Linked DNA regions of Homo sapiens: region 2 is linked to region 1. Evidence: fine-mapped expression QTL. A gene starts in region 1. The other region holds a variant in brackets. All regions are shown on one strand. Distances are from middle to middle. Region 1 holds the start of CARD6 (caspase recruitment domain family member 6). Region 2 has its middle 25 kb from the start of PTGER4.

Region 1 (2,805 bases):
AAACTCCTGACCTCAGGTGATCCATCTGCCCCGGCCTCCCAAAGTGCTGGGATTACAGGTGTGAGCCACAGCGCCCAGCCACCTCTTATTTCACTGGAGGACAGGAATACCTAACACCTCCTATATAACTTGCATGTCAACATGTCAACTTTCAGAACTTTCTTTTTTCCACTAAAAAAAAAAATCAGATCACACCACTGTCTTGCTTAAAGTTTGAGTCCTTCCTAGCAACCTTACAGGGTAAGTGAATAAAACGAAAAATTTGAATCATATGAACAGTGTTTACTTGTGGACTTACTGTGACTCACAACAGACTCACGTCTCTTGGGGTCATTGCTAATGAAATCTGATCACAAATAATTTCTAATCAGTAAGCAAATGGCTCTATTTGGAATAGTGTGCTTTAGAAATAATAAAAGAAAAATTTCTAAGCATATAAATCTTGTCCTAAATTAGGTATCACTAACATTCACCTTTTTATCTGAGCCTCTACCTCTCTAACATCCCTTAAAATAATTTTGAATTTTTTTTTAGATTCCTAGAAAAAGAGCTAGACCTAGTCCTAGTAGTAATTTACAGAATTGCTAAATAACTGGAAGAATTGCTTTTTCATGGACTACTAGTTATCTTTGAACCATTTAAGAATTAGCACTGGAATTGCTCCAGAAAACAGCTGCTGCTGGCATTCTTATCACCAAAAAAATGAAACTACTGATTTGCCATCTATGTGTTAAAAATTATTTTCCTTGTATTTTCAAAACGGCTATACTAAGTGAAAGATACAGCTTGTGGTCTTGGCACTGTAAATATCCACGAATTCATCTACTTGAAAAACAAACCCTGGATTGTGTTATTATTAAAGTATTTTCCTTCCAACTGTGAGATTTTAGCATGTTACTGCCAGAATAATGAGCAGTTTGTTAGCACTAAAACAACTTCAAGTTTTGAGTACAGTCTGAAAAACAAATTATCGATTCAGTAGACCAATAAGATGTTAAATTTCAGAAACTTTTTAAATTCCAGTTTTTCCCTATTTCATATTTCAATGAAAATTATCTCCAGAAAAAGACTAACAAAAATAAAAGGCAACAATTTTCTTTCATTTTGTTTTCTTTTTCAGAAAGTCTGCCCCCTTCCTCTCACCCCAAAAAGTATACAAAGTCAACTTACCATGCCTTAAGCCGCAAATGGCAGCTGACTGTGGAAAAGTACTAAATAAACACTTGAGAAAATGCTGACAGGTCGCCTCTCCCTTTTTCTGTACCAAAATTAACAGCTTCCGACTTTTCTTCAGGAGATCTGTAACATTCTCCAGAGTCTCATACTCTTCCTCAGAAATCAGCCTCCGAGAAGTTAACGTGTCTAAGATAGAATCAGGATCATGTTGAAGGATTTCAAGCAACTTTTTTCTTTCTCTTTCTATGATCTCTGAGGGAGTACTCTCGGTAGCCATTGTTCCTGTTTCCTCTAAACCAGGAAATATATTATGAAATCATCCTAATGAATAAGTAAAAGTTAAAAAAAGAATGACAAAGAACAATTCTATTTGGCTAAGCTTTAACATGTCAATGATGCCTAGTGTTGGAGAGTGCAGATACAAGCACAGTGGGGCAACCCAGCTCGGAGCACTCTCTGATCCGGGGTCCTTGTGGATTATTTATCTGCTCTTTTGAAGTCTTGATAAATTCTCACCATGACTCAGACCCAGGGTCACCTCCTCCAAGAAGTCGCTCTTGAACTTCAGGTTGGACTAGGTATTCCCTGCTCAGAGAACTATACTATGATGCCAAGAATGTAAATTATTAATTGATATTTGGTGGGCAATATGGCAATATACAGCAATAAATAAATAAAGTTGAAGACAGACAAAAATAAAACTTCATATCCTTCAACCCAGCAATTCCAGTTCTAGGAAATTATCTTAAGGAAATAATTGAGCAAATGCCCGAAGATGTATGTACAAGAATCTGCATTACAACATTGTTTACAACAGTACAAAATTGAAAATAACCAAAGTTGGGGTTTAGGGAATAAATATTGACATGTCGACAGTGAAACACCAAAGAACTGTTAAAAAGGATAAAGTACATCTCTACATATTGACAAGTAATGATATCCATGATATATTGCTATGGAAACAGCAAGTTATAGATCTCATTTTTGTTTTAAAAAACTTAATGTGTATATAGTATATGTATATAATATGTATATGCAGATATGCATTATATTTTAAAGAAGACAAGAGATATCCCAAATTTTAACACTGGTTATCTCTGAGAATATGACTACAGGGAGATTTATACTTCCACTTTAAACATTACTATTTAATATTTTACATTTTTGGTTTTTTATTATTATTTATTTTAAGAAAATTACCTGGTTGGTCTTTATTTACTCCTTCATAGTTCACAAGAACCTGAAAGCGATCTGCATAACTAGCAACAGGATACTGGATGAATAAACTGTGATATTTCTTATAACATAATATTACATGGCATTCAAAAAGAATGAACTTCAGTGACCCACAATATAGAGAAATCATAACAATAGTAAGGAAAAACTGTAAATCCCAAAAGATTATATACAGTATGACAACCTTTTTAAAAGTTGAAAATAAACACACCCTTACATTTAAGAGTATACATGAAGTCATTAAAATTATACAAAACAAAAAGCAAAGAATGATAAATATGAAATTCAGAATGATGGTTACCTCGCATATGGGGAGCTTGGGGATGGGATGGGATTGGGGAGGAGATCATGGATGTCCTACAATGTAGGAGTTGGGCCTATCAGGGCTACTAT
Region 2 (2,805 bases), 140 kb after region 1:
TTCAGGTATTAAGCTTGGTACCCAATAGTTATCTTTTCTGCTCTTCTCCCCCCTGCCACCCTCCCCACTCAGGTAGACCCCATTGTCTGCTGTTTCCTTCATTGTGTTCATAAATTCTTATTATTTAGCTCCCACTTATAAGTGAGAACATGTAGTATTTGGTTTTCTGTTCCTGTGTTAGTTTGCTATGGATGATAGCCTCCAGCTCCATCCGTGTTCCCATGAAAGACATGATCTCATTCTCTTTCGTGGATGCTTAATACTCCATGATGTATATGTACCATATTTTCTTTAGCCAGTCTGTCATTGATGTGCCTTTAGGTTGATTCCAAGTCTTTGCTATTGTAAACAGTGTGCAATGAACGTTTGCATGCATGTGTTTTTATGGTAGAATGCTTTATATTCCTCTGGGTAAAGGCACCCAGTAAAGGGATTGCTGGATTGGATGGTAGTTCTGCTTTTAGTTCTTTGAGGAATCACCATACTGCTTTCCACAATGGTTGAACTAATTTACACTCCCACCAACAGTGTATAGGGTTCCCCTTTCTACACAACCTTGCCAGCTAGCATCTGTTATTTTTTGACTTTCTTATAATAGCCATTCTGACTAGTGTGAGATGGTATCTCATGGTTTTGATTTGCATTTCTCTAATGATCAGTGATATTGAGCTTTTTTTATATGCTTTTTGGTTGCATTTATGTCTTCTTTTGAAAAGTGTCTGTTCATGTCCTTTGCCCATGTTTTAATGGGGTTGTTTGTTTTTCTCTTGTAAATTTGTTTAAGTTCCTTATAGATGCTGGATATTAGACCTTCGTCAGATGCACAGTTTGCAAATGTTTTCTCCCATTCTTTAGGTTGTCTATTTACTCTGTTGGTAGTTTCTTTTGCTGTGCAGAAGCTCTTAAGTTTAATTAGATCCCATTTGTCAATTTTTGCTTTTGTTGGAATTGCTTTTGGTGTCTTTGTCATGAAATCTTTGCCCATTCCTAGGTCCAGGATGGTATTGCCTAGATTGTCTTCCAGGGTATTTATAGTTTTGAGTTTTACATGTAACTCTTTAATACTTCTTGAGTTGATTTTTGTATATGGTGTAAGGACGGGGTCCAGCTTCAATCTTCTGCATATGGCTAGCTGGTTATCCCAGTACCATTTATAGAATATGAAGTCTTTTCCCCATTGCTTCTTTTTTTCAGCTTTGTCAAAGATCAGGTGCTCATAGATGTGTGGCCTTATTTCTGGGCTGTCTACTTTGTTCCATTGTTCTATGTGCCTGTTTTTGTACCAGCACCATGTTGTTTTGGTCACCGTAGCCTCATAGTATGGTTTGAAGTCGAGTAATGTGATTCCTCCAGCTTTGTTCTTTTTGCTTAGGATTGCCTTGGCTATTTGGGCTCTTTTTTGGTTCCATATAAATTAAAAAAAA[T/A]TTTTTTCTAGTTATGTGAAGAATGCCATTGGTAGTTTGATAGGAATAGCATTGAATCTGTAAATTGCTTTGGGTAGTATAGCCATTTTAATGATATTGATTCTTCCTATCCATGAGCATGAGATGTTTTTCTATTTGCTTGTGTCTTCTCTGATTTCTTTGAGCAGTGTTTTGTAATTCTCATTGTAGAGACCATTCACATCCCTGGTTAGCTGTATTCCTGGATATTTTATTTTTGCAGCTATTGTGAATGGGATTGCTTTTCTGATTTGGCTCTCAGTTTGGTTGTTGTTGGTGTATAGGAATACTAGTGATTTTTGTATAATGATTTTGTATCCTGCAACTTTGCTGAAGTTGTTTATCAGTTGAAGGAGTGTTTGGTCTGAGACTATGGGGTTTTCTAGGTATAGAATCTGCAAACAGAGATAGTTTGATTTCCTCTCTTCCTATTTGGATGCCCTTTATTTCTTTTTATTGCCTGATTGCTCTGGCCTGGACTTCCAATACTATGTTGAATAAAAGTGGTGAGAGAGGGCATCCTTGTCTTGAGCCAGTTTTCGAGGGGAATGCTTCCAGCTTTTGCCCATTTGGTCTAATGTTGTCTGTGGGTTTGTCATAGATGGCTCTTACTATTTTGAGCTTTGTTCCTTCAATACCTAGTTTATTGAGAGTTTTTAACATGAAGGGATGTTGAATTTTATCAAAAGTCTTTCTACATTTATTGAGATAATCATGTGGTTTTTGTCTTTAGTTCTGTATGTGATGAATCACGTTTATTGATTTTCATATGTTGAACCAACCTTGCATCCTGAGGGTGAAGCCTACTTGATCATAGTGGATTAGCTTTTTGATTTGCTGCTGGATTTGGTTTGTAGGTATTTTGTTGAGAATATTTGCATTAATGTTCATCAAGGATATTGATTGGCCTGAAGTTTTCTTTTTTTGTTGTGTCTCTGCCAGGTTTTGGTATTAAGCTGATGATGGCCTCATAGAATGAGTTGGGGAGAAGTCCTTCCTCCTAAATTTTTTTTTTTTTTTTTTTTTTTTTTTTTTTTTTTTTTTTTTTTTTGAGACGGCGTCTTGCTCTGTTGCCCGGGCTGGAGTGCAATGGTGTGATCTCAGCTCACTGCAACCTCCGCTTCCCGGGTTCAAGCAATTCTCCTGCCTCAGCCCCCTGAGTAGCTGAGACTACAGGCATCTGCCACCATGCCCAGCTAATTTTTATACTTTTAACAGAGATGGGGTTTCACCATGTTGGCCAGAATGGTCTTGATCTCTTGACCTTGTGATCTGTCCACCTCGGCCTCCCAAAGTGCTGGGATTACAGGCGTGAGCCACACCGTGCCCGGCCTCTTCCTCCTAAATTTTTTAGAATAGTTCC

What was found.
Region 2: its variant is fine-mapped to the expression of CARD6 in whole blood (TOPMed, PIP 0.95).

The regions. Positions count from the first base shown.
Region 1 is chr5:40,840,031-40,842,835 of GRCh38, reverse strand. It overlaps CARD6 (caspase recruitment domain family member 6), which reads right to left and starts at 1,469. Exons shown (of 3, transcript NM_032587.4): 1 at 1,171-1,469. The coding sequence starts at 1,453.
Region 2 is chr5:40,703,591-40,706,395 of GRCh38, reverse strand. It overlaps a transcript of PTGER4 not described here. Among named protein-coding and RNA genes, the nearest start is that of PTGER4, 25 kb to the right of the region's middle. The variant T/A (reference allele first, on the strand shown) is at 1,425.